Homo sapiens: one gene and its partners. The protein of the gene in region 4 interacts with the protein of the main gene of each other region in a biochemical or structural test. Each region holds a gene or a part of one and is shown on either strand. Other genes may lie near its edges. The genes, in order: DENND5A, PDLIM2, SHROOM4, PALS2, SLC16A3, GJD4 and FZD4.

What was found.
Region 1: the proteins of PALS2 (region 4) and DENND5A interact in a test that uses a peptide from one of them, tested with the Homo sapiens proteins (one large-scale study listed by IntAct).
Region 2: the proteins of PALS2 (region 4) and PDLIM2 interact in a test that uses a peptide from one of them, tested with the Homo sapiens proteins (one large-scale study listed by IntAct).
Region 3: the proteins of PALS2 (region 4) and SHROOM4 interact in a test that uses a peptide from one of them, tested with the Homo sapiens proteins (one large-scale study listed by IntAct).
Region 5: the proteins of PALS2 (region 4) and SLC16A3 interact in a test that uses a peptide from one of them, tested with the Homo sapiens proteins (one large-scale study listed by IntAct).
Region 6: the proteins of PALS2 (region 4) and GJD4 interact in a test that uses a peptide from one of them, tested with the Homo sapiens proteins (one large-scale study listed by IntAct).
Region 7: the proteins of PALS2 (region 4) and FZD4 interact in a test that uses a peptide from one of them, tested with the Homo sapiens proteins (one large-scale study listed by IntAct).

The regions. Positions count from the first base shown.
Region 1 is NC_000011.10:9,262,290-9,266,905, forward strand, and holds the start of DENND5A (DENN domain-containing protein 5A), read right to left. Parts: upstream 3,062-4,616; 5' UTR 2,781-3,061; coding exon 2,672-2,780; intron 1-2,671.
Region 2 is NC_000008.11:22,590,131-22,592,677, reverse strand, and holds part of PDLIM2 (PDZ and LIM domain protein 2), read right to left. Parts: intron 1,128-2,547; coding exon 1,010-1,127; intron 1-1,009. UniProt on the Homo sapiens protein: Probable adapter protein located at the actin cytoskeleton that promotes cell attachment. Necessary for the migratory capacity of epithelial cells. Overexpression enhances cell adhesion to collagen and fibronectin and suppresses anchorage independent growth.
Region 3 is NC_000023.11:50,604,412-50,608,296, forward strand, and holds part of SHROOM4 (protein Shroom4), read right to left. Parts: intron 3,774-3,885; coding exon 2,970-3,773; intron 1-2,969. UniProt on the Homo sapiens protein: Probable regulator of cytoskeletal architecture that plays an important role in development. May regulate cellular and cytoskeletal architecture by modulating the spatial distribution of myosin II.
Region 4 is NC_000007.14:24,677,767-24,681,651, reverse strand, and holds part of PALS2 (protein PALS2), read right to left. Parts: intron 2,522-3,885; coding exon 2,319-2,521; intron 1,261-2,318; coding exon 1,132-1,260; intron 1-1,131.
Region 5 is NC_000017.11:82,227,472-82,232,116, forward strand, and holds the start of SLC16A3 (monocarboxylate transporter 4), read left to right. Parts: upstream 1-1,570; 5' UTR 1,571-1,635; exon of another isoform or gene 1,636-4,645. UniProt on the Homo sapiens protein: Proton-dependent transporter of monocarboxylates such as L-lactate and pyruvate. Plays a predominant role in L-lactate efflux from highly glycolytic cells.
Region 6 is NC_000010.11:35,603,675-35,608,253, reverse strand, and holds the start of GJD4 (gap junction delta-4 protein), read right to left. Parts: upstream 2,914-4,579; 5' UTR 2,687-2,913; coding exon 2,623-2,686; exon of another isoform or gene 2,289-2,622; intron 729-2,288; exon of another isoform or gene 677-728; coding exon 1-676. UniProt on the Homo sapiens protein: One gap junction consists of a cluster of closely packed pairs of transmembrane channels, the connexons, through which materials of low MW diffuse from one cell to a neighboring cell.
Region 7 is NC_000011.10:86,948,579-86,952,463, reverse strand, and holds part of FZD4 (frizzled-4 precursor), read left to right. Parts: coding exon 1-1,322; 3' UTR 1,323-3,885. UniProt on the Homo sapiens protein: Receptor for Wnt proteins.

The DNA of each region.
Region 1 (4,616 bases), on a different chromosome or scaffold from region 4:
AGCTTCATTCTTATGCTCTATCATTCGCAAAACATTCTATCTTCTCAAACCAAGTGTTCATACAATTTGACACTCAAAAACACGCATAAAAAAAAGTTTATTCCACCACCTTAGTTTCTTTTACTGAGAAGAATTATGTTGTTTTTAATATTTCTCAACATGTTAGTGTTTTCTAAAGACCTCCAGCCAGGCCAATGAGATGCAGTTTAATGTCATGAGAAGAGCACTGGACCAAGCAATTAACTAGTGTATACAGGCCCCACTGTCCTTCCTGGGCCTCATTTTCCCCTCTGAGGTCCCTTCCAACACCAATACCCTGAACCGAATTCCAAAAATTACATCAAAGTCACAAACTTACTACATATGAAAAAGATGAAAAACATCTGTACTATAAGAATTTGAAGACCTTAAAAGATAAACTTGAACAATTATTAGGTACTCATCAAAATAATTTTTTTTTTTTGGACGGAGTCTCGCTCTGTCGCCCAGGCTAGAGTGCTGGAGTGCAGTGGCGCGATCTGGGCTCACTGCGAGCTCCGCCTCCCGGGTTCACGCCATTCTCCTGCCTCAGCCTCCTGAGTAGCTGGGACTACAGGCGCCCGCCACCACGCCCGGCTAATTTTTTGTATTTTTAGTAGAGACGGGGTTTCACCCTGTAAGCCCGGATGGTCTCGATCTCCTGACTTCGTGATCCGCCCGCCTCAGCCTCCCAAAGTGCTGGGATTACAGGCGTGAGCCACCGCGCCCGGCCTAAAACTAAAATTTTTTTAAAGTAAATTAGAAACCATAAAACTACCCCGACAAAAAGCCTAATATTAATTATATTACTGCTTCATATTTTCTCCACCTGCTATTGAGGAAATAGCTCATTTTTTTCTAACCTTGTTAAAGCATGAATTTATCATGCTTTTTTCTTCTTTTTCTTTTTTCCCAGACAGAGTCTCGCTTTATCACCCAGACTGGAGTGTAGTGGCGCAATCACCCAGACTGGCGCAATCTCAGCTCACTGCAACCTCCCCCTCCTGGGTTAAAGCGATCCTCCTACCTCAGCCTCCTGAGTAGCTGGGATTACAGGCACGCGCCACGACGCCCGGCTAATTTTTGTATTTTTAGTAGAGACGGGGGTTTCACCATGTTGGCCAAATTGGTCTCGAACTCCTGACCTCAGGTGACCCGCCCGCCTCGGCCTCCCAAAGTGCTGGGATTACCCCTGAGCCGCCGGGTGGTGGGCCACCGCGCCCCGCCTAATTTTTTTTTCATAAGAAACACTGGGCCGGGCGCGGTGGCTCACGCCTGTAATCCCAGCACTTTGGGAGGCCGAGGCGGGTGGATCATGAGGTCAGGAGATCGAGACCATCCTGGCTAACAAGGTGAAACCCCGTCTCTACTAAAAATACAAAAAATTAGCCGGGCGCGGTGGCGGGCGCCTGTAGTCCCAGCTACTCGGGAGGCTGAGGCAGGAGAATGGCGTGAACCCGGGAAGCGGAGCTTGCAGTGAGCCGAGATTGCGCCACTGCAGTCCGCAGTCCGGCCTGGGCGACAGAGCGAGACTCCGTCTCAAAAAAAAAAAAAAAAAAAAAAAGAAACACTGGACTTTTTCTGGTGCCCAAAAACAAAACTGTCTTGTCATCGTTGAAGCCGAGTAAGATTAGTCAACAGGATAATCACTTTCGAAAGAGAAACTTTACAGTGACAGAAAAGTGAAAAGGAGTCCCCCTCATCAGGATGACACAACCTTAAAGTACAACCCGACAAACCTCCACCCACTTGAAACCCACTAACTGGAAACTCCAGACAAAAACTTATTTTCAAAACTGTTACAATTCAAAGACTCCAATGACAGTGCAGTGGAAAATTCACGGGGACTGTATAATTTTCACGGCCTTCTGCAGTGAGTGCCAAATCTGGTCAGGGCCCCATCTTTGACTCCCCTCATCACTTTCCCTTTCAAATATGACTTGAAACGCATCAGAACACACCAAGCCTCTCCAACTACAATGCTGCTACCCTTTTATTCACAAACGCCTCTGTCCTCATAAAGGACATAAATTACTTTTCAAAAAAGGCATGGCCCCGGGATACAAGCCCTTTCCAAGGCTAAGGGAGTTCCTACTCTTCTTGGTGCCGCCCAAGTTCACTTTATTACTTCATATCCCATCCAGACGCGCAGAGCTGCAATCTGACTCAGGGGGCCCAGCCCAGGGCTGGGGTATAACGGTTTTGAGGAACTAGTATCACAAGCTTCTTGGGAAGTGGCCAGATAAACTCACCAAGTTTTTGTTTTCCTTTTTTTTAAGTCTGGGTGGAACTTACTTTCACTAGGACGTGGGACGCCTTCCCTCCCTAATGGGTGCCAGAGGACAAGCTTTCCTTTATTTTAAACGAAGTCACTCAACCTACACCAAACTGAGAACACACAACCCTCCCTCTTTCTGGTCGCCGAAGACGTGGCCACTGCGCAGCGGGCCGTAGGTTTGGACCCCTCATGGCTCAGAGCCCCTCATCCGTTTCCCCCCTCCAGTCCAAAGCCCCCTTCGCCCGCGCCCGCCCTGGTCCTCCCGGCCGACACTCGCCCGGCTCCCGGGACAAAGCGGGGCTGAAGGAAGGTTTCTTCTGGGGTCCCCGACGACAGCGGGCGCGGGAAAGCGCCCCGGGCTCGGCGCGCACTCACCCGACAGCTCGTCCGGCTCCAGCCCGGTCTCCGTGTCCAGTCCGCAGATGACAAAGTAGTCGGCGAAGCGACTGGGCGCCGAGCCCCCTCCGCCGCCGCCGCCACTCATGGCGCCGGGGCCGAGACCGGCCGGGCAGTGCGGAGCGGCACCGAGCCCCCGCAACCCGGGCGCCCGCCCGTCCGCCCTCAGGCCGCCCCTCCCGCCGCCGCCGCTACCGCGGCTCGGGCCGCCGCCCCCGGCCCTGGCCCGGTCCCCTCGGCCGCCGCGGCTGCCGTGACGGGGCGGGGGGGCACCGGGCCGCCCCGCACCGCATCCTGGATGCCTTCCCCTCCGCGCCGCCGCCGCTGCAGCTAGCCGAGAGCGCCGCGGCCCGAGCGAGCCTGGAGAAGGGCGGAGAGCGCGTGGACAGCCCCCACCGTGACCCTCCTCCTACCGCGCCTGCGCAGGCGCCGTCTGGGAGGGGGCGGGCTCCTGGGGGAAAGGATGACGTGATGCTCTTCGGACCCCGCCGGCCGCAGCTTCCCGGGAGGTCGCCGCAGCGCAGCCGGTGACTGCTTGGTCGCCCGCAACTGCCACTCCCCCGGGATTGAGACTCCTTTAGGGAGGGCTGAGGAGGTGCGAGAAGAGTGGGCGCAGCCTGCAGAGCCGGGCATTTGGCCCATGCTCTGCCCCCAACCACCCACCCAGCAAGCAGAGGTCCAGAGATCTTAGCGCGGCCTTGCCATGAGGATGGGGTCTCACGACTGAGCTCGGAAGCTCACCTAATCCTAGCTGCAGCGTGTCAGCCTAGACCCCAGACAGGGCCTTCTCCCTGTCCTCTCTTTTGGCAGGGGCGGATGAGCCGGTTTTATATTTACCCTTATTTTACAGACGGGGAAACTGAGTCTCAGAAAGAAGCAAGGACTTATCCAAGGTTACGCTGAGTCTAAGAGACATAAGCCTGGTCTGGAATCCTGGGCTTGTGGTCAGCTCCCCGTTCCTCGCCGCTCCCACCTCCCAGCCTGCCCTTTTCCCACGCTCTCTCCTTTTTTCTCTGGAAGCCTCCAGAGGCGCCTGCCATTTGGGAGCTCCTCTTCCTCTTCACTCTGTGAAAACTCTCAGATCCACCCCTAAACCTGTTTTCCTGTAAGAGGATAGGGAGGAGGCGAAGGGAAACTTACCTATTGGTCCTTGTCCTAGGACCCTCCGATTTCCTTTCCCATAGAAGCTAGGCAGATGTGTCTTTGTTGGAAACTGGAGATCAGAGGCCAGAAAGGCAACACAGGTATAGTGGTCACTAGCATGGGCTCTAGAAAAAAATGCTCGGATTTCAATCCTGACGATCATTTACTTTTGACCTTGAGCAAGTTAATCTCTAAGTGCCTGGCGTCATGGTTTTTGAGACAATTACATAAGGTAAATGCAAGTACAGGTAAAACAATGAGAATACTGCCTGGAACATGGAAATCACTCAGTAAATATTACAGATTTTTTTTTTCAAGACGGAGTTCTGTCTTGTTGCCCAGGCTGGAGTGCAATGGCGTAATCTCGGCTCACTGCACCTCTGCCTCCCAGGTTCAAGTGATTCTCCTGCCTCAGCCACCCAAGTAGCTAGGATTACAGGCGCGCACCACCACACTCGGCTAATTTTTTGTATTCAGTAGAGACAGGGATTCACCGTGTTGGTCAGGCTGGTCTCGAACTCCTGACCTCAGGTGATCCGCCCTCCTCTGCCTCCTAAAGTGCTGGGATTACAGGCATGAGCCAATGAGCCCCCAGCCTGGATTATTATTATTGTTCCAGAAGGAAGTACTCTTACGGTTTGTTCTGGGAGGCTGCCACTAAGAGCTGTAGAAGGCAGCTGGCTTCCCCAAAGGCTGAGCCTAGGCTCTCTCCTAGGTTCTCCTGGGTACTTCTCTCAAATATTGTTTCCCTTGGGGAGGTTTACCTAGAGGTTATAGCCAT
Region 2 (2,547 bases), on a different chromosome or scaffold from region 4:
CGGCATTTAACAAACCCTCCAAGGGACCCGACACACACACCTTTGAGAACCAGGATGGAAAACATGCTTTTTCAACACACATTCCCTATCTCTGCACAGCAGGGGGACTGGATATTCTCCCACTCTGCAGATGAAAACACTAAAGCCCAGAGAGGTTAAGGGATTTGCCTAAAGTCAATCACCTGCCCCTCCCACACTACACACTTCAGAAATTTACCTGAGGGGGGGTTTCAGCAACCTTCCAGAGAATGTGGTTGCATTATAAATGCCACTTAATGAGAAAAATGAGCCCACCTCGGCTGGGCATGGTGGCTCACGCTGTAATCCCAGCACTTTGGGAGGCCGAGGCAGGCGGATCACCTAAGGTCAAGAGTTTGAGACCAGCCTGGCCAACATGGGGAAAACGCGTCTCTACTAAAAATACAAAAATTAGCTGGGAGTGGTGGCGGGAGCCTGTAGCCCCAACAACTCGGGAGGCTGAGACACGAGAATAGCGTGAACCTGGGAGGCAGAGCTTGCAGTGAGCTGAAATTGCACCACTGCACTCCTGCCTGGGCAACAGAATGAGACTCCGTCTCAAAAAAAAAAAAAAAAAAAAAAGAAAAGAAAGAAAGAAAAGAAAAGAAAAATAAGAAAAATGAGCCCACATCGGGAAAAATGCAGCCTGCTCCAAAGGGGGAAGAAGGGGAAAGAGCAAGATTTTCCAAGAGGATGTGCTGTACCTCCGGGCAGATCTCCAGAGGCTTTGAAATGATCAAAGAGAAATCAAAAGGGATGGGAAAAGGAGGAGAGGGAGAGGAGATGCAGCCGGAAGCAGCTAGCCTAGGCTCCTAAGAAGCCTGTAACTAATGCCCCCAAAGCTGTGCAACACTGCTTCCCCTAGAGTCCCCGACTGGGTACCCAGTGCTAGCCCCTGATGGGCCCGGCCCTTCCTGAAAGCATCCAGTGCCCTGTCCCCCTCCCCACTCCCCTGTGAAGGCTCAGGTCCCCCACCCCCCTCCACACTCACGCGATGCTGGTACTGCACTTCTCACAAGTGTGGAGCTTGGGAGGGGTGGCCAGGGCCCTGGAGGCGGGCAGGGAGGACTGGGGGCTCAGTGAGCTGGGCAAGAAGGCTGGCGTGCCACCTGGGGGCAGGGCAGACAGACATGTGGTGAGAGCCCACCAACCACAGCATCCTCCCAAAGATGCTCTGAGGAGGTGGTCTTGGAAAGCACCCTTATAAGAGAAACCCTAAAGTCACGCTGACAGTGGCACCAGGTAAGGAGGAAGGTGATCTTGCCAGATCCATGGCTGAGGCTGGGCAAGGGCATGAAGGAGGCAGGTACAAGGCCGAGTTTGCCCATCCAAGGCCACCTGGGGCCATCTGTGCTCAGTGTCAGGTGAAGCAGGTGCTCCCTCTCTAATGACCTGGTAATAACAGTGTGATTAGATAATAACTGGAGATGGCAACAGGAGCGCAATGCCTCGGTGTGGCTTTCAAAGTGCTTTTCCATGCCTTGTCACATCTGAGCTCTCAAGCCACACGAAGATGAAGCCCAGGGCTACGGGGCAGCTGTCGCCCGTCTGCAGCTAAGGACGCTGAGGCCTCCTTGGCAAAGTCACTGCTCTCTCCCTGTGCTGCCTCCTGGGACCTTCTGAGGCCTCAGGGTCAAAACAGACCAGATTTGCTCCAAACCTTCTCACCCCACCCCCTGTGCCTCTGCAAATGCCCCTTGGAGCTAAACATCAGCGTTAGAACCAGCCACCTGCCAATCTCCAGGTGTGCCCTGTCCATATGGCCTCTTACATTTGCTCCCAAAATGGAAATCTCACCTTCAACCTCACAGTTGTTCCTGGAGGCCAGTTTCCAGCCTGCATCTCTGTACTCCCCACTCCCCTGCTCCCTTTCCATTGCCACCCCAATGGGACTCAACTGAGGTCCAGGAGCCCACACCAGCCACTGGGAAGGAGAGCCTTGGAGACAGCCAGGCGGGCCAGTGCCCAGGGCCAGGGGCACCATTTCCTGGGAAACCAGCTTCTCTCCATTTTAAAATTCAAAGTCATAGATGAATTATGAAGCCTCTCTGGCCACTCTCCTACCTGTCCTGTCATCTCCCTCCCCTTCTCCCCACTGTTCTAGAGGGCATTGGTGCTGAGCACCTTAAGGACAGGGGCTGTGGGAGTAGTAACTCCCACAGCAGCGCTCACTTCCATGGGAGCTGGCCAGGCCCATCTGCCCCAATGAACGGAGCTCCCCAAGGGCAGGAGTGGGGTCATGGCCACCTATCCCCAAACTCTGCACACATCTGGTCCCTCAGATGGGCACAGTCAGTGTCTGTCACATGAATAACGGAACTCTGGCAAGCCTCCGTATGTCTTGCTCGCCTGGCATCAGTATTTAATGGCTTTCCTGGGTTAGGGCACTCCTCAGCCTGATTCCCTTCCCGAGGGCCCTCACTGCAGGGGCTTGGCCTCCACTGGCGCCCTTTCATGCTATCAGGCCCCCATTCTCTCACTCCCACACCCCAAAGCCCTCTGGCCGCCAGCCTCCACCTTCCACAGTGC
Region 3 (3,885 bases), on a different chromosome or scaffold from region 4:
ACCTGACTCTAGAATCTGTGCTTCAAGCCGCTATGCTATACTGCCAAAGGGACAACTTGAGATCATATAAAAGCCTACATGTAAGGAATTTTCTGGCTGGAGTATATCTATGTTAGCAGATAATGGAGAATATTCTGGAGGGAATATGAAGGTCTGAACTTAGGGAATTCCTATCTACAAGAAAAATATTTAGGGTATGTGTGAAAGTTCTGTGTCAGAAGGTGTTATAAAGGAAAAAAAGGATGTGCTAATTGGAGACTCAGTTCCCCAGCATACACATCCCTGCATCATATTATAGTATATCACATTAGGCACTATATTCTAGGGATCCTTTCCTTATCACCTCCATTAATAGGGAAGTGATTATAGGTGGTCTATGTAGTAAACATCAAAGCAAAAAGCAGATTCCTTTCACAGAGCACTGAGAGGAAATGCATAGAGTCCATAAAGCAAGCTATACCTATACCTGAATCAGTTATTAGACTTAAATAATACTTAATTATTCCACTAGCTGGCTTCTGTGTGTATCCCAGCATTTTTTAACAGAACAGTATGTAGGTTATAAAGGTACTAGAGTTTAACTTGGCTGAAATTAGGATATCTTTGTTTGCATTTTAGATTCAAAATATTATGCATCTATATGTCCCTTACAAAATCTTAAAGCTGCTTCCTTCTGGCTAGGACACTGTCCTCTCCTAGGGTCTGGAATAGAATCTTCTTCAAGAGCCCAGAGATCGTGGGATGATATAGCAAGCATAGTGAGCTACCTGAGATCTTGTGATAAAGTTACTTTATCTCCCTGGGCCTTGCTTTTTTCATCTAAGAAATGGAGAAGATGAATGGTAACTATTTCATAGGTTTATTTTCATGATTAAATCAATCATTACCCAAAGTGCTTAGAACAATGCAGGGCACATAGTAAGCAATCAAAAAAATTAGCTATTTTGGGAATGATGCTGTTCCTTAAATCTCCATCACTCAAAGGAGCATCTAATTGATTTTGTAGTCACAAGCAGAGCTGTGTGCAAACAAATGTTTTCCCTTACATCCTAGAGTCATTAAAAATAAATCTCTGGAGCAAGTTACAAGATCTCTAGTAATAGTGATTTCTTTCTGTCTGGCCAAGGTGCCAAGGCAAAGGGAGCTACACAAAGAAGGAAGAACCAGGGCTTGTAACTGCTGCCTCTGGTACACCTTGCCCTACAGGAGAGAAGAGGACCCTGTGACTCCTGGCCTATGGAAAGAACAAGATCTCTCTGGGAGAGGCTGCCTAGGAAGGCAAAATAAGCATGGGCTTTGGAGTCAGACAGCTCTGGCTTTGAATGTTTGCTGTGTAACTTGGAATTAGTTAGTTTCCTCATCTGTCAAATGGGGATAATAATGGCTAATAGGGCTATTGGGAGGATTAAATGAAATAGATACATAATGTCTGGCAGTGTCTGGTATATAAGAAATACTTAATAAATGTTCATCCATTCATTTATTTGTTCTTTCTTCTTAAATATTTGTTAAGTGCCTACTATTGGGAGGTCATTTTCCCTTTTCCCTGCTATGATAGATAACAATCACAGGTATTTTTCACAAAATGTTTTCTAATTACAATGAGAATGCTCCCCAGGTAGAAGAACAGCTTGAGAAGCAGCCACATGGGATCTAATGAAGGATTCTTTTTTTTTTTTTTAATTATACTTTAAATTTTAGGGTACATGTGCACATTGTGCAGGTTAGTTACATATGTATACATGTGCCATGCTGGTGCGCTGCACCCACTAACTCATCATCTAGCATTAGGTATGTCTCCCAATGCTATCCCTCCCCCCTCCCCCCCTCATGAAGGATTCTTAACAGTGCCTGGGAGCCAGGCCCTGTAAATGCTGTGCTTATGGCATCTTGGGCTGGAAAACTGATCAACTAGCTCCACATAGACAAGTCACAGATTTGTCTGACAATAAAAGACATGATAACAAGGTACTTCTAACCGCAACAAGTCTCAGGCAAATTCCTGCTATAAAGAGAGTTAAGGAAAGCACTTATAAGCCACCTGCCTCCCGAACCTCAGCCCCAGCAGAGAGTGGGCTGAGCTCTCCACAGGAGAGCAGGTGGAGCTGCTGACAGCCAGAGCACTGAGCAATAATAGCAATGATGGTCCTGGGGCTTTTGCTTTGGAGCAAAAGAAATTAAAAAAAAAAACCCAACCATGCACTATAGGGCATGCAGATGACAACTGGCTCAGTGGAGTGAACAAACACTGGCAGTCCTGCTGCCAGAACACACTCTTGCTTTGGCCTCCCTGCCCAGGCAGCTCACCCTGTCAACTACCACCTATTACACACCCACATGAATGCAAAGAGGCAGGTAAACAAGGAGGGGGAGAAAGTGGAAGAGAAAAAGAATGTCCTTATCTATTGTAAGGAATTATCAAGGCATGAAGCACCCAGCCCCAGGAATACCTTTGATGCTGGTGGTTGTGGGGGGACGAGTTTAGAAGCCCAGGCTACTTGTCCTAGAGCAGAGGCAGGTCAGGTTGTGAGCTGGCCTCTTATTCTGGAGGGCAAGCAGAAGAGAAGGCAGGAAAAGTGCCTGAGCCAGGTTTCTGGGAAAGACCTAGTATAGGCAACAAGTGTTCAATGCCTTTGGGATCAGGGGCCAGAAATTGATGGATACCATGAAGACACACTAAGGAAAAGTATAGTACTTTAATAAAGATATTTAGGGATAAGAACATGATATTTACTGAGCATGTACTATGTGCTAAGCATGGAGCTATATCCTTTATGTAGATTATCTTAATATTCATAACAATCATGTGAAGCAAGTATCATTATACCCATTTTCCAGGTAAGAAAACTGAGGCTGGGAGCAGTTTAACTGGCCAGCCTGAGGTCATCCAGTTAGTAAATAGTGGAGGTAAAATTCAAACTTGTGCTGCCTGCCTCTTCAGAGACCTAGTATCTTTCATATGTACTTACTTGGCGGATTCAGTGGCTTCCTGTCCCGATGTCCTCCAAAGCCCACCAATGCCATAGTAGCAAGGGGGCTGAGCCTGCTCAGGTTGAGATCCCAAGTGACCCCTTATTGGAGGCAAGAAATCACTGGAATGGAGTGCAAAGGATTCTTGCTCTGCTGGGACACTTTGTGAACCCTGTCTCGAGCCCTCCAGGTGGCCAAAGCTGAGGGGTTGTGGCTGCTCTAGGACCTCCTCAGGATTGAGAGCACAGGAACCAGAGGTTTCTGAACTGAAATACTGGGGTGGCAGCTCCTCTTCCTCCTCCTCTGCCTCCTCCTCCTCCTCTTCCTCTTCCTCTTCTTCTTCTTCTTCCTCCTCCTCCTCCTCCTCCTGTTGCTTCTGCTGCTGCTGTTGCTGCTTCTGCTGCTGGGCTGCACGAAAGAGCCTGTACTTCTCCCAGTTGGGAGGAGGAGGGCGAGGAGGAGGAAAGGCCTTCTTCCTGGCTCCGAGAAGATCCGACTGGGTCTCATCACCTTTGCTAAAGAGCTCCCTCCTATGCTGCCCCCAGGCCCGGGTGCTTTGGGGCGCCAAGCTGATGTGACTCTCTGAGAAGGCACGGCTGCGCAGTGGGTGGGGCATGGAGGCAAGGGAGCTCCCCTCCTCATAAACTGAAGTTTCCTCTGATTTTTTCAAAGCATGTTTGAAGTCTCCAAGGAGGTCAAGAGAAGAAATTGCTCGGTAGCTTGACAAGTCCAGTGCTGGGTTCTCAAGGCAAGGATGGAAAGGGGTTGCCCATGAAAAGCTAGTCTTGGAATGAGCCATTTCCCTGCAAAACATCAGATGAGTACTGAGAAAAACAAGCAAGTTGCAGATAGGCCCATATTTTGGATGACAACATTTATATAAAATTTAAAATGTCCACAAAACAATGTAGTATG
Region 4 (3,885 bases):
ATTATGTGTCAATTATACCTCAATTAAGCTGGCAAAAGATTTAGGTGACAATGAGTAAATTCAATGTGTTGATCTTGTTTGAATCCTTATTTGAACAAATCAACAGTAAAAAAAAAAAAAAAAAAATCTTGGAGAAACTCAAATATAGACTGCATGTAGATGATAGTAAGATACTGCTTATTAATTTTTGTTGTATTAATGGTATGTTTTAAATGTCTTTATCTCTTAGATATAAATACTGAAGTATTTACAGATGACATGATATCAAAGATTTGCTTCAAAATAATTCAAGGTGAGGAGGAAGTGGGGAGGGGTCTAATTAAAACAAGAAATTGCCACGATTATTGAAGCTAGGCGATCGGCATAGGGACTCATTTATTCCCTCTTTTGTATATATTTTTGAATTTCCATTAAGTAAAAAAGTAGACAGGAAAAAAAGGAAAAAACATGTAATAGAAACTAAACATCAGAACACCCCACTTTACCAATGATAAACCATATAATAAACATGCCTGTTAATGATCTCGGAGCCCAGTTACCCCACTAGTAAAATGAAGGCGTTCAATTAATACGCATATTTTAATATTGGTCCATTTCATTTTACAAAGGGGAACTAAACTTTTGATTTAAAATAAAGTGTACAATGATTTTCAAGTAAAAGAATACTGTTCCAGATCCTAACTACATCTAATTAATTTTCATTCTGTAGCACCTTATATAGCATGTTTATTTCATAAGCATAATTAGCTAAGAGTTGGCCAGGCACGGTGGCTCACGCCTGTAGTTCTAGCACTTTGGGAGGCCGAGGTGGGCAGATTGCCTGAGGTCAGGAGTTCAAGACCAGTCTGGCCAACATGGTGAAACCCCGTCTCTACTAAAAATACAAAAATTAGCCAGGCCTGGTAGCGCATGCCTGTAATCCCAGCTACTTGGGAGGCTGAGGCAGGAGAATCGCTTGAACCCGGGACGGGGAGGTTGCAACGAGCTGAGATCGCATCAATGCACTCCAGCCTGGGTGACAAAGCAAAACTCTGCCTCAAAAATAAATAAATAAAAATAAATTAGATAACAGTTAAACATGCTCAAAAGAAAAGGAAAGATTTTAGAAGGAAAATCGTATGGTTAGCTCACGGTCAGAAGCTTGGTAGTGATTCCTGCATCCACCACAGCCTTGTGCATGGCACGTAACGTCTCTAGCTCCGGAGCCGCAATAAATACCACATAGGGCATAAACTCTGATGTCCTCAATACTTTCAGTGCCTGTGTAAAAGAATAATTATAAGCCAATTTATACAATATTAGAACTAGAATTCTGCTACCCTTTAGTATATATCAAAGGCTGTTTGCACTTGTTCTATGAATTAAAGGACATAACTTAATACTTATCCCTGTTCTGTCCTTCTCATTCCATATAGTACTTTCTTAAAACAGTGATCCATTTATTTTGTTTTGAACTCAGTCTGTTCCTCTTGAACAAAGTATAAAACAATGATCCAAAAATCATCAAGAGTGATGTAAACTCTTTTTTATGTTAATTGTAGAATTCTGTTAATACTCAAAAAGTAGAAATAACCTCAATGTTGATTAATTGGAGAGTGGTTAAATGAATATATATTCATACTATATAGCAATTACAAAGAAAAAAAGCTCTACAGTAACTACCACAAAAAGATCTCCAAGGAATAGTTCTATTTAATAAAACCCCTGAAGAATCTATATAGAATTTTTCCATTTATGTAAAAAGAAACAACAAAAACAGAAAACCCATTACCTTATATATATTTGTATTTAAGGCATAGTGAAATGACTAGAAAGAGACATAAGAAACTATTAACAATTTTTATCTCTGAGTAGGGACGTGAGGTTGGGCTGAGTGTAGCGGAGTGGGAAGGGGTAGGTGACAGAAATATAGAGTGACAAAATGAATAGTGTAGAGGTGTGCATGTGTGTCAGGTAGGAGGGGGAGTGACTTTAATTTTTTATTCTTTATATTGCAGACTTGAGTTTTAAACTTAACATTTCTTAACACAAGCACTTATGCATTACTTGAACAGGTAAATAAATACATACTAAACTTCTATTGTAGATCTAATCACACAGTTTCTATTGCCACCCAAGCCTCTGTTGGCTAATTGTTCAGAGATTTATTTAACTAGCTATGTATACATAATAACATTCTCTATCACCCAAAGGTAATGGAGGGAGTCACCTTTCCACCCTGACAAAACAAACAACCCCAACCCAACAACCCCGACACACATGAAAAAAACTCCACAGAAAATAAAATATAAAACAGCTTTGGAATCCAAGCAGCTTACTTGTGGGTTGACATCCAGAATGCAAGTCCGTCCAGTTTGGACAACCTCAAGAATAGAATCAATTTTGGTTCCATAGAGATTTCCTTCATATTCCCCATGTTCCAAATACTTTCCAGCTTTAATATCTGCTTCCATCTCAGATCGTGACACAAACTTATATGCCTGGCCATCTTTTTCATCTTCCCTTGGTTTCCGTGAAGTAACTAAATAAAATAGTGTTGAGATTTTTGTACAAAGAAATTTTAGGGCATAAAAAATAGACTAAAATACATAGGGTGGCTTAACGTTTTTCCACTGGGTGCAGCAAACTGTAGGCTATGACCAGATCTGATCTGCTTCTTATTTTTGTAAATAAAGTTTTATTGGACCACAGCCATACTCATTTGTTTATGTATCATACATGGTTTCTTTCCCATTAAAATGGTGGTAGTAATTGTGACAGACTGTATGGACTGCGAAGCCTAAAACTTTACCATGTGGCCCTTTAATAGAAAAGTTTCTTGATACCTTAGGGGAATATTTTAAGAGGTAGTCCCCCAAATAAAATTTGTATCCAAAAATATGCTTCTTAAAATCACTTTGAAACTCAAAGTATATTTACCTAGCAGCAGAGCCTTCAATGAAGTTCTTAATTATGGTAAGTGTTTGAGGCATGTTGTGAGTGAGTATCTTTTCAACTGACCAGCACTCTCCTTCTCCTTAGGAATCTATTACATCTTTTCTTTCCACATTAACACTTCCTAACTGCCCCAAAACGTGAGCAAGCAAAGTTCACCTGTTCTTAGTTGTGATACCAATTTTGTAAAGTGCAGTTTTACCCACAAATTATCTATCTTTTATCTTACCTCAAAACCAACGCTTTTAGCTTCCTGTTTATTGATATTCCCAAATGTTAACTGTTCTATTTTATACTTCAGTGGTAGAGCTAGACGCCTCATTATTATTATGGTCTATTAACCTCCTCTCCTCTGACCTGACATATTATTTCTGGGAAAATGAGATTGAATAGCTCAAGTCAAAATTTAGAAGTAGGAGATCCTTTTGTCTGATATTTTACAGCTTTGAATACTTTCAGAGACATACAACCCTTTGCAAGTTGGTCTGTGCTAGGAACGGTTATTACCATTTTTTAAACTGTTGCAAATGTGTACTCTCTGACAACTTTGTTAACAACAGCTTTGAAGAAGAAAAGTAATTTTTGAGCGTGTTATTTCAAGCTTAGCCTTACTCTGGGCTTTGCTGGATCGGATATAAGAAGTATCCTGTTTCTATTAGCTAAGTAGTTGGAGAATAACTGATGGAATTATTAACTACACCAAACTAAACTAAGAAAGTAATCCGAATAAAAAGATGACAGTGTTTTGACTATTTCTAATAAGCCTAAGACATAGAAAACTTTTATAAGAACAAAATGAACTTCAAACTCATGCTCAAAAATAAGGGTCAAATGAGATCATTATGTATAATAGGACTCCTGTTTTCCCCTTGTTTTCTGGCTCAACCTTGAGAGTGGTCGTCTTAGACTACTGTGAAGAGTATTTATAAAGTATCTTTGAGAATCTTCAAG
Region 5 (4,645 bases), on a different chromosome or scaffold from region 4:
CCCATAGGGGACCCATTCCCGCAGCTGTCCACGGTGCCTCGCACCCCTCTGCTGCTCTCCCTCCTCAGAAACTGATGAATCGCCTGGTGCAGGAAGATGGGAGCACCACCTGCCCTGGGCGGGAGCACCACCTGCCCTGGGCGGGAGCACCACCTGCCCTGGGCGGGAGCACCACCTGCCCTGGGCGGGAGCACCACCTGCCCTGGGCGGGAGCAGCACGGGCCAACTAAGTAGAGTCTTCATCTGTGAAGTTGGAGGCCCCCTCACCACTTGCCACAGGCCTGTGTTCTGCTCACAGGCACGTGCCCTCATCTTGATGTTTGGGGATGGGGGTGGTTGGGCCCCAGGTAGGGGTGAGGGCCAGACCCAGCCTCTGTGAATGCCAGCGGGAGGGTGGGCTTGTAACATTACATAGAAAGAACAGGCGGCCTTACTGGACCTGATGTCCCGCAAGGCTGGGCTGCAGATGGAGAGCCAAGGCCCACACGGCCTCACTGTCAGGGGTGGCCTCCCCTTGCCCTCTGGAGGGGTCCTCCATTGATACCCCCTGCCTCCTTTGTGTGTGAAGGCACGGGCTTACCAGTGCCTCGGTCCCCGAAGCCCCCGGGTCCGGGAGGGGCCAGTTAAAGCATTCCTGTGGCCCTGGCAGGGTGGCCCTGACAACTAGACTCCTTGGTCCAGGCCAACAAAGGCCTTACTCCCTGGAGCCACCTCAAACCTCAGCACCCAAAGCGGCCCGTTATTTCCATGTTGCAAATGAGAGAAAACAGGCTGGGAGAAGCACCTCACGAGGTCCAGCGGGTGGGCAGCCCTCGCCTCCCCGAAGGTGGGAGCCGCCCCGGCCTCCGCGTCGGGTTCTGGGCCGCGAGAGGGGCGGGGCAGGGGCGCAGGGCTGGAGTCGGTGGCTTTGTAGGGCCCCGCAGGGCGCGGAGCCACCTGGGGAAACGGAAGTTCAGGGAGGGCGAGGCCGTGCCCCACATCCAGGCAGCGCAGGCCGCGGGCCGCTCCCCTAGCCAGGAAGAGCCGCCGTCCGCACCGGGACCGGAGAGGAAGCGGAGGTCTGAAGGGGGACAGGTCGGACGTGGCCTCAGAGAGGGAGGATGTGGGCCCCGGAGCTGAGCCAGGCGGCCGGAACCCCACGGGACCCGCGCGCACCTCCCCACCAAAGGGGCCCCGGCGTTGGGGGGCGAGGGGTCGCTGCCCTGGAGGACGTTGGGACCTGCCGCGCTGCGCTCCGAGGCGGGGAAACGGAGGGACGGCGGGGCGGAGGGGCGAAGCGAGCCTGGACTCCGGGGGAGGCGAGGCCGGGAAGACCCAGTCCCGAGGAGCAGAGGGGGCGGGCCAGCTCCGGGCCGGGGGCGCCGACGGGGCCGGTTCCGGTTGGGGGGGTCCCTGGGCCCGGCGGGGTTGCGGGACGCGCCGTCGGGGAGCTGCGGCCCGGGAGCCCGTCCGGAGGCGGCGCGGGGTCCGGGCGGGGCGCGCAGGGGCGGCGCCAGGCGGTGACGTGCGCGGGGGACGTGCCGCGCCAGCGACCCGAGCACTTAAAGTCGCCCCCGGCGCGGAGCGGACCGGCAGAGGCGGGCAGAGGCGGCGAGAGGCGGCGAGAGGCGGGCTGAGGCGGCCCAGCGGCGGCAGGTAGGCGCGGCCGCGATGCTCGCGCGCGGGCCGGGGCCCAGGAGCTCCCCCGTGCCGGGCAAGGGGGCGACCTCGGGGTCCGCGCTCTCACCCCCACCCCGCCCACTTTGTCCATCAGGTCCGGGGGCGCCCGGGGCATGGACTAGCCTTCTCGACCCCGAGCGGGCCCCACCGAGGGCTCCCGAGAGCCAGCCGCGCCCCTCCGCGCCCTCGCATACCTGGCTGCCCAGTCTCGTCTCCCCCGGTCCGGCCCGGCGCCCACCCGTCGGGCTGCCCTCAGGGGCTGGGCTCGGGCCAGGAGATGGCTGCGCCGGCGGCCAAGCCCGGTCCGGGTATAAATAGCTCGGTCCGCGGTGGCGGGGGGCGCGGGCTATATTTGGTGGGGCTGCTGCAGCCCTCCCTGTATGGGTGGCCTCCCCGAGGGAGTGGGGAGCACTTGCGCTCGGGCCGTGGCGCTTTCCCCTGTTCGCAACACCCTGAACACTCCCCGACCCACACCCGCCCTTGGGCAATGACTAACAGCCCGAGACCGTGCAGGGAAGTGGGGGACCCTCTCCAGAGCCAGGCTGGGCTCCCTGGGTTCGCCCTACCTCCACCCCTGGCCCCCAGCTCGTGGGAAAACCAGGCGCAGCCTTTGGTAGCCTCCCACTTCCTAACCCACGCCTCAGTTTCCCTATACGAAAAGTGGGTTGGTCAGGAGCCTCCCTGGGTGTTGGGCCAGTCAAGAGACAGGAGCCGCAGAGTGGAAGGGAAGCCCTTAGCTCTGGCCGGGGCCTCCAGGGGTGGCTGGAGTCGGTGAGGGACGATGGGGGGAGCCGAGGGGCGGCTGTCCTCCTCTCTGTCCCAGAGGCATGGGCTGAAAGGGTCCCTCTCCTGGTGATGGCCAGAGTCAGGCCTGCTGGGCGGGAAATGGCAGTTGGCCCACCCCAAGGCCCAGGGGCTTGTCCATGCTGAGCACAAGGGTGGGAGGTCTTGTGTCTGTTGGGGCCGGGGAGTCCAAGGTCCCAGCTTCACTGCACAGGCCTGGAAGTCAGGTGGGTGCTGGCCTGACCCTGCTGAAGGAGGGTCTATTCCGCCAGCGTGGTGTGGAGGCGGCTGGGCTCGACTCCCTCATGGAGGGAAGGAACTGAGGAGGTGCTAGGAGGCCGTGGGGGGGTGTCTGCCCCCAGAGAGGCTTTGAGTGCATGGGGGCTCTGCCGTGGCACGTGCAGCGTCTGTCCCCCAGGGCCCCATGGTGTGGACAGAGTCTGGGGTGGGCACCTGGAGGCCTGGTCTCAAGGCAGGCTTGGTAACGACCCCATGTGACCTTGGGCAGGGCCCGCCATCCAGGCCACCCAGAAAGCCATGTGGCCTGCACGATCAGGCCAGACCCCACTGACTGGAGCGGGGCACTTTACTTTGGAGGGGCAGCTACCAGAGGGCTCTATGGATCCCAGCCCAGCCGTCAGGCCGGACGGGTCCCCCCTACTGGCCTGCAGTGACCCTTATGCCAGGCTCGGCTGGCTCAGCGGTGGGTCCTGGGGTGACCTGGCCACGTGGGACAGAAGGGCCTGTGCCGCTCCCTCCAGTGAGGTGCCAAATGTGGGCCACACTCTGGGCCCCAGCGGGGGCCTTCCGGGCAGTGGCGCAGAGCCATTGGAGGTGCCCGGGCCCTGGGGCAGGGGCGGGGCGGGAGCAGACAGAGCTCAGGGCGTCCTCCTAGCGTCACCTGCCCGAGTCAGGCCCATCTGTGAAATGGGCCACGCCGGGCAGCCGCACGCAACGGAACCGAACCGCCGGGCTCCTGCTCCGAGACCCGCAGTTCACGAGTCGACGCCCCCGAGTCCCGAGCCGCGCCCACTGGTCCCACCTCTGCAGCAAGTGGAGTCGGCCCCGCCCTGTGGCTTCGAGGCCCCGACGCCTGGCGCGGCTCCCGGGCTCCGCTGACCCCGGTGGACCCGCGCGCCGGCAATTACGGTAGCGTCCAGTAGGGCGCCTACTGCGGGCAATACGGGGGCTCCTCCCATGGCGCGGTCACGTCCCCCACGTCCCGCGGCTGGCGGGGCGGGGCCGGGCGGAGCATCCTTCCCTCCCCCTCCCCCGGGTGGGCCCCGCCCAGCCTCGACCACCCGCGCCGACCCCCGCCCGCAGAGCCGGGAAGCCGGAACCCGCAGGCGCCCTCCAGCCGTCCCTCCGGCCCGGGCGGGGATTGCGCCGAGGAGGGGCCTCTCCTGGCGAGGGTGGAGTTTTGGGTTCCCCCCTTCGCCCCGCACCTCCCGCCTTCCTGCCTCCTCCCGGTCTTCACCTTCCCCCCCGGGTCCCCACGACGCCCGCTGGGCGGCGGTGGGGTAGGGGGCGCCTCCTGACCCGACTCCCCTTCCAGCCTTGGCCTTCAGGCACTGGCTTTAGGGTGGAGGGGCGGCCTTGCGGGGTCCAGGAGGCCTCGGAGGTGGGGGACGGCGGCTCTGGACCAGCTCCGGCCCCCACCACCTCCCGGCCCCAGGGCGGTGACAGCCTTGCGGAGAAGGGGTCTTCAAAGCTCTGAGACCCCGCAGTGCCAGCTCAGGATTGAAGCCTGCGGCGGCACATGCAGCCTTCCTTTCCCAAAGGGGACTTGCGCCCAGCCCCACTTGGGGCACCAGTGGGGGCTCCTGGCCCTGGCCCTGGGTGGGAGTGGCCAATCCGCAAATGAGGCCTGTGTGTCTGCCCCGCCGGCCCCTGCCGTCGTGATGTAAGCGGACACAGAGCGGCAGGGCACGGGCTGCGCGAGGGGTCTGCGGGGGTCAGAGGTGGGGCGCAGGGCCCAGGCCTGGGGCAGCCCCTTGCGCAGCGTCCACCCCCTGCAAGCTCGGCCCCGACACCTTTGCAGGCGCCTGGGGCGGGGCTGCCGGGAGTTGCTCACTGCTCCTTCCTTGTTTGCACAACAGGGGCTGCGGGGGAAGAAGGGAACTGAGGGAGGCCCCTCCCCCGGTGCAGCGCCCTCCCGCCCTCGGCACCCCTCGGCAGCCAGGCGCTGGCCACAGAGGCCGCT
Region 6 (4,579 bases), on a different chromosome or scaffold from region 4:
TCCGCGTGGCCTGAGGCTCCGCTCTGCTTCCGGATGGAGGGGCTTGTGGGGGGTCCCGGCCTCCTGCGCATCCGCCGCCGCAGGCTGCAGACCAGGTCGGCGAGGCCCAGCAGAAAAGACAGCGCGCTGACCGCCCAGAGGAACAGCATCAGCAGGGACTTCTCTGTGGGCCGCGACACGTAGCAGTCCACCACGCCCGTGCACGGAGGGCGCGTGCAAGGGAACTTCTTCGGGGCCAGGAATCCAAAGAGAAAGTAGTGCAAGGCCCCGAAGGCTGCCTCCAGCAGGGTCCGGAGGAGGAGGTGGATGATGTAGCCGGCCGAAAAGTCGGGCACCTGGAGGCCGCCGCGCTCCCCGAATGGCCGCGGGCAGCGTCTCTGCCCGGAGGCCGGCTCCCGGGGGTCGGGGCAGCGGCGGGGGCCCAGCGCGGCGAGCGTGGCTCCTCGGTGCAGGACATAGACGCTGAAGACGGCGGAGGGGAGGAGGACGCACACGCCCTGGATCAGCCAGAACCGCAGGTGAGACACGGGGGAGAAGACGTCGTAGCAAACATTGGCGCATCCCGGCTGCAGCGTGTTGCAGACAAACCTCTCCTGCTCGTCCTGGTAGACGGGTCGCCCCGCCAAGACAATCACCAGCATCCGCAGCAGCATCGTGAGGACGAACCAGAGCTTTCCTGGAAGAGAGGAAGCGGGCATGGCCTCATCACCCCGAATACACTGCCCTGAGTAACAGCTTTAAAGTGTCTATTGGGGCTGAGATTGGGAAATTGAAACGTCAATAAGCATGTCTTTAGTTTTCTGTTTGTTTGTGTTGTCGTTGTTGTTGTTGTTGGACACAGGGTCGTGCTATATTGCCCAGGCTGGTCTTGAACTCCTGGCCTCAAGTGCTCCTGCCGCCTTGGCCTCTTGAGTAGCTGGGATTACAGGCATGAGCCACCACACCTGTCAGCTTGTCTTTACTCACAGCATCAGGTAGTTCATTTGACAAATATTTACTGAGCACTGAACATCCTTGTTTGTAAGATGCTTCAAGATGAGTAGATTTTTAAAAAGCATTATATTAAAAGTGTTTTAATCTGTCTGCTAATTCAGACTTTTGGTAATGTCTCCTGGACTGATAGGTCCAGAAAGAAAGTTTGGCTGAGCAAATTAATGATTTAAATAAGATTTAAATTTTCTTCTTAGGAGAATAAGCCTTTTAAAAGAGGTTGGTGTATTTCTGTAACTGCCAATTCGAGCTGCTGATTTCAGTAAATCTTACTTATGACAACAGTCCAGGGATCTCTATTTAATCACAGGGCTTGTATTTAATGTTAGTCTACGGCCCTTGAAATTGAATTTCTTTATGAACATTCCATTTTTCAGATTTTTTAATCATTCAGAATTCCTCTTCCCCTTTTCCAGTTATTAGGAATGAATGGGGCTTGTCTTTCTTCAATGTATCGTGAAGGAATGACACCAAGCTAGAAAACCAAAATAACTGTCAAGCCCTATTTTCATGGCACCGGCCAACTGTTTCGAAACATGTTTAAAACTCAGCCAAAATAACTTGTGAATATTGTGTTTTGTGATGAGAGAAACATCGCCTGACATCATAAAAACAAAACAAAAATAAATATGTAAAGACAGTCAAACAAAGAATAATATCATTATGTGATGAGTCATTGAGTTGAACTTTTAACATCAAGTTGGTTTTGTCTAAATCTACAAAATAATGAGCCAGAAAAGTATCAACTGCATCTCCGGCATATATTCATCCTTTTCTGACCCCCATACCTCTCTGAAAATGTGAGTCGTCTGCATTAAACAAAAATCTATTATTTTCTTTGTTAAAAAAAATAACTAAACTTGGGATTTGGTTTAAAGTGCACAAGAGAAATGGCTACTCCTTAAAAATTAAGCTTCCAGGCCAGGCGTGGTAACTCACGCCTGTAATCCCAGCACTTTGGGAAGCCAAGGCGGGTGGCTCACGAGGTCAGGAGATCGAGACCATCCTGGCTAACACGGTGAAACCCCGTCTCTACTAAAAACACAGAAAATTAGCTGGGCGTGGTGGCAGGCGCCTGTAGTCCCAGCTACTCGGGAGGCTGAGGCAGGAGAATCACTTGAACCCGGGAGGCAGAGGTTGCAGTGAGCTGAGATTGCATCACTGCACTCCAGCCTGGGCAACAGAGTGAGACTCTGTCTCCAAAAACAAAAAAAAAAAACCAAGCTTCCAGAATAAAACCTAAAGGTATCACCTTCTGATTAACATTTGTTGTTCTGTTCCTTTTCCTGGTAACGTAGCCACACCAGGGTTGCACACAAACACCCCTCCACCTGCTTTGGTCTTTGGAGTCAGCACCCCAGTGTCAGCACAGGATGATCTGTGAGAGAACAATGTCAAACGCAAGACTCCCTTACATGACGGAGGAACCGCGGAACCATTCAAAGAAACTAGAAGCCTCAGCTCTCTTCCCTCCAGAAAGGCACAGCCCTTTCTTTTGGGAGTGGGTGGACTTTCAGCTTGGTGCTTGCACACTGAAAATGAGTAAATACCTGGACCCTTTAAGGACTCAATTCCACCATGGCAGTGGAAATAAAAACAGCGCAGGAGTTTGGAGATGGTCCCAATACTCACCCACCATGGTCACGTTGCAGTTTAATGTGATGATGAGAAACCCTAGCAAGTCCACGCCTTCCATGCTTCCAGAATGTCCCAGGCTCCAGGCTGCAGGAGACACTGGAGGGCTGTGTTCTCCAAGGAGGCGGATAAATGTCCTTTAACTACATAAGACTTAAAGGTGTGAGCTGGAGATAAGAAAGCAAAGGTCTGAGCCAGGAGTAGGAGGTGGGTTTTTCTGTCTCCAAGTTGAGACGGCCCTAAGCCGTTTGCCTCTGAGGCGAAACATTCCTGACAACTGCAGTGACCAGCAGAGCAAGCAGCAGTCATCTCTTATTGTGGGCTATTCTTACTCGCCTGGGATATTCCCGGCCTGTGGCAGCGCTCATATGTCCCCACCAGGACAGCCAGATGCTTCAGGATATAATAGCAGCAACTACTTTTAACCCAAGAAAGAAAACTTCTGCTAACTAGCCAAGTAAATTTCTCTATTAAAAAGGCATTTCCTCCTTGAAAACATTTCCACAACCACTTCACTTGTGCAAGAAGCCCTTAAAGTGTTCACGTTTTGTCTTCTCAATCAAGCATGAATCGCCATGCCACCATCACACGAACCCACAAGGATCTCGCCCTTATTCTGAATTCCTGTGTCATTGGTGCAGGCAGAAATCTGAAACTCAGTTGGGTGTCCCAACTTTAGACCGTGACTTGGTTATTCTCCTGCTGCTTCCTGTGCAGTGAGTGACAACTCTTCGCTTGGAGACAAAAGCCTGGGTGCAAAGCCCGGGGCAGCCCCCTACTCACTGGGGAAGTCATTGGATCCTTCCAGATAGCCTCATCTTGCAATAAGGAGAATCATGCCATTCCACTTGCCATTTGTGGGAGGCTTATGTGAAATGATGGTGTAGAATAAGAGCAACTGGTGTGAAGTGGGTGTACGACAACCCATATCCGTGGGATTTCAATCCCTAATTGGCCTCTACGACCTTCACAGATTACATCTTCCCTTTGTATCTCCCAGCCCCATCTAGCCTGGAGCTGTTCCCATTGAATCTACTTAATAAATGTCTGTTAAATCTGTCATGAAATATCACGGTCTGGACCTGCTGACATCAATCACAGTTGCGTCAAAATCCTATCGCTGCAGCCACCTTCATATCTGGGAAGAACCCATCCTGCAGGGTTGGGGATCTATGATCAGGGTGGAAATTGTAAACTTTAAAAGGAATGATTTCAATTTTCCATGAAAGCTATTCTTTATATCCCCATCTTTTCTTCATTTCTGATCTATTCTTGACTTTAGTAATATCCCTAGAAAGATTCCCAGAAGAGTGCAACAAAGCTACTTTCATCTTTGCTCACATGACATGCTCCCATCCACGGAAAACGTTTTGACCCCCTTGAAAGGAACAGTGGTTTTGCTATATTTTAGTCAAATGCTTCGACATGAGCAAGGAAATTTGAGAAATTGTAGTTAAGTAAAAATATTGAAATAGTCACAGGGTGTAAGTATAAAATAAAGGAGAATTTGTCTCCTAATAGACTGCTCATGGTATTGGCTTTAAAAAAAAAATGAAATATCAGGAAAGCAATTACTGACTCTTGCTGTGTGATAGAAATAGCCCATCCCAAATGTGGAATAAATTAGCCCTGCGCGACCATGAGCAAATCACTGCAGCTTTTCATGCTTCGGTTTTCTCATCAGTGAAGCAGAAAAAAAGAATGTGTTCTTCACCCACTCACAGTGACTGTGATATGCAAATGTGACCAGAGATGTGAAAATGATTTTGAAATGTAAAGAATGACCCAGTGTCAGTGACAGGCGCTTCTCAGGGTTGGCTCCTCTGGTCCCACCCTTCAGGGCATCTTCTGAGCAGCCCATGCCCACCCATCTCCCTTCTCATCCTGGTCACCTTTGCTCTTCCTCCTTGAAGTCTACCCCATCCCCATTCCTTGTCTTTTTTCTCTTTCTCTT
Region 7 (3,885 bases), on a different chromosome or scaffold from region 4:
TTTGTTCTGTTTATGTGCCAATGTGCACAGAGAAGATCAACATCCCCATTGGCCCATGCGGCGGCATGTGTCTTTCAGTCAAGAGACGCTGTGAACCCGTCCTGAAGGAATTTGGATTTGCCTGGCCAGAGAGTCTGAACTGCAGCAAATTCCCACCACAGAACGACCACAACCACATGTGCATGGAAGGGCCAGGTGATGAAGAGGTGCCCTTACCTCACAAAACCCCCATCCAGCCTGGGGAAGAGTGTCACTCTGTGGGAACCAATTCTGATCAGTACATCTGGGTGAAAAGGAGCCTGAACTGTGTGCTCAAGTGTGGCTATGATGCTGGCTTATACAGCCGCTCAGCCAAGGAGTTCACTGATATCTGGATGGCTGTGTGGGCCAGCCTGTGTTTCATCTCCACTGCCTTCACAGTACTGACCTTCCTGATCGATTCTTCTAGGTTTTCCTACCCTGAGCGCCCCATCATATTTCTCAGTATGTGCTATAATATTTATAGCATTGCTTATATTGTCAGGCTGACTGTAGGCCGGGAAAGGATATCCTGTGATTTTGAAGAGGCAGCAGAACCTGTTCTCATCCAAGAAGGACTTAAGAACACAGGATGTGCAATAATTTTCTTGCTGATGTACTTTTTTGGAATGGCCAGCTCCATTTGGTGGGTTATTCTGACACTCACTTGGTTTTTGGCAGCAGGACTCAAATGGGGTCATGAAGCCATTGAAATGCACAGCTCTTATTTCCACATTGCAGCCTGGGCCATCCCCGCAGTGAAAACCATTGTCATCTTGATTATGAGACTGGTGGATGCAGATGAACTGACTGGCTTGTGCTATGTTGGAAACCAAAATCTCGATGCCCTCACCGGGTTCGTGGTGGCTCCCCTCTTTACTTATTTGGTCATTGGAACTTTGTTCATTGCTGCAGGTTTGGTGGCCTTGTTCAAAATTCGGTCAAATCTTCAAAAGGATGGGACAAAGACAGACAAGTTAGAAAGACTGATGGTCAAGATTGGGGTGTTCTCAGTACTGTACACAGTTCCTGCAACGTGTGTGATTGCCTGTTATTTTTATGAAATCTCCAACTGGGCACTTTTTCGGTATTCTGCAGATGATTCCAACATGGCTGTTGAAATGTTGAAAATTTTTATGTCTTTGTTGGTGGGCATCACTTCAGGCATGTGGATTTGGTCTGCCAAAACTCTTCACACGTGGCAGAAGTGTTCCAACAGATTGGTGAATTCTGGAAAGGTAAAGAGAGAGAAGAGAGGAAATGGTTGGGTGAAGCCTGGAAAAGGCAGTGAGACTGTGGTATAAGGCTAGTCAGCCTCCATGCTTTCTTCATTTTGAAGGGGGGAATGCCAGCATTTTGGAGGAAATTCTACTAAAAGTTTTATGCAGTGAATCTCAGTTTGAACAAACTAGCAACAATTAAGTGACCCCCGTCAACCCACTGCCTCCCACCCCGACCCCAGCATCAAAAAACCAATGATTTTGCTGCAGACTTTGGAATGATCCAAAATGGAAAAGCCAGTTAGAGGCTTTCAAAGCTGTGAAAAATCAAAACGTTGATCACTTTAGCAGGTTGCAGCTTGGAGCGTGGAGGTCCTGCCTAGATTCCAGGAAGTCCAGGGCGATACTGTTTTCCCCTGCAGGGTGGGATTTGAGCTGTGAGTTGGTAACTAGCAGGGAGAAATATTAACTTTTTTAACCCTTTACCATTTTAAATACTAACTGGGTCTTTCAGATAGCAAAGCAATCTATAAACACTGGAAACGCTGGGTTCAGAAAAGTGTTACAAGAGTTTTATAGTTTGGCTGATGTAACATAAACATCTTCTGTGGTGCGCTGTCTGCTGTTTAGAACTTTGTGGACTGCACTCCCAAGAAGTGGTGTTAGAATCTTTCAGTGCCTTTGTCATAAAACAGTTATTTGAACAAACAAAAGTACTGTACTCACACACATAAGGTATCCAGTGGATTTTTCTTCTCTGTCTTCCTCTCTTAAATTTCAACATCTCTCTTCTTGGCTGCTGCTGTTTTCTTCATTTTATGTTAATGACTCAAAAAAGGTATTTTTATAGAATTTTTGTACTGCAGCATGCTTAAAGAGGGGAAAAGGAAGGGTGATTCACTTTCTGACAATCACTTAATTCAGAGGAAAATGAGATTTACTAAGTTGACTTACCTGACGGACCCCAGAGACCTATTGCATTGAGCAGTGGGGACTTAATATATTTTACTTGTGTGATTGCATCTATGCAGACGCCAGTCTGGAAGAGCTGAAATGTTAAGTTTCTTGGCAACTTTGCATTCACACAGATTAGCTGTGTAATTTTTGTGTGTCAATTACAATTAAAAGCACATTGTTGGACCATGACATAGTATACTCAACTGACTTTAAAACTATGGTCAACTTCAACTTGCATTCTCAGAATGATAGTGCCTTTAAAAATTTTTTTATTTTTTAAAGCATAAGAATGTTATCAGAATCTGGTCTACTTAGGACAATGGAGACTTTTTCAGTTTTATAAAGGGAACTGAGGACAGCTAATCCAACTACTTGGTGCGTAATTGTTTCCTAGTAATTGGCAAAGGCTCCTTGTAAGATTTCACTGGAGGCAGTGTGGCCTGGAGTATTTATATGGTGCTTAATGAATCTCCAGAATGCCAGCCAGAAGCCTGATTGGTTAGTAGGGAATAAAGTGTAGACCATATGAAATGAACTGCAAACTCTAATAGCCCAGGTCTTAATTGCCTTTAGCAGAGGTATCCAAAGCTTTTAAAATTTATGCATACGTTCTTCACAAGGGGGTACCCCCAGCAGCCTCTCGAAAATTGCACTTCTCTTAAAACTGTAACTGGCCTTTCTCTTACCTTGCCTTAGGCGTTCTAATCATGAGATCTTGGGGACAAATTGACTATGTCACAGGTTGCTCTCCTTGTAACTCATACCTGTCTGCTTCAGCAACTGCTTTGCAATGACATTTATTTATTAATTCATGCCTTAAAAAAATAGGAAGGGAAGCTTTTTTTTTTCTTTTTTTTTTTTTCAATCACACTTTGTGGAAAAACATTTCCAGGGACTCAAAATTCCAAAAAGGTGGTCAAATTCTGGAAGTAAGCATTTCCTCTTTTTTAAAAATTTGGTTTGAGCCTTATGCCCATAGTTTGACATTTCCCTTTCTTCTTTCCTTTTTGTTTTTGTGTGGTTCTTGAGCTCTCTGACATCAAGATGCATGTAAAGTCGATTGTATGTTTTGGAAGGCAAAGTCTTGGCTTTTGAGACTGAAGTTAAGTGGGCACAGGTGGCCCCTGCTGCTGTGCCCAGTCTGAGTACCTTGGCTAGACTCTAGGTCAGGCTCCAGGAGCATGAGAATTGATCCCCAGAAGAACCATTTTAACTCCATCTGATACTCCATTGCCTATGAAATGTAAAATGTGAACTCCCTGTGCTGCTTGTAGACAGTTCCCATAACTGTCCACGGCCCTGGAGCACGCACCCAGGGGCAGAGCCTGCCCTTACTCACGCTCTGCTCTGGTGTCTTGGGAGTTGTGCAGGGACTCTGGCCCAGGCAGGGGAAGGAAGACCAGGCGGTAGGGGACTGGTCTTGCTGTTAGAGTATAGAGGTTTGTAATGCAGTTTTCTTCATAATGTGTCAGTGATTGTGTGACCAAGGCAGCATCTAGCAGAAAGCCAGGCATGGAGTAGGTGATCGATACTTGTCAATGACTAAATAATAACAATAAAAGAGCACTTGGGTGAATCTGGGCACCTGATTTCTGAGTTTTGAGTTCTGGAGCTAGTGTTTTGACAATGCTTTGGGTTTTGACATGCCTTTTCCACAAATCTCTTGCCTTTTCAGGGCAAAGTGTATTTG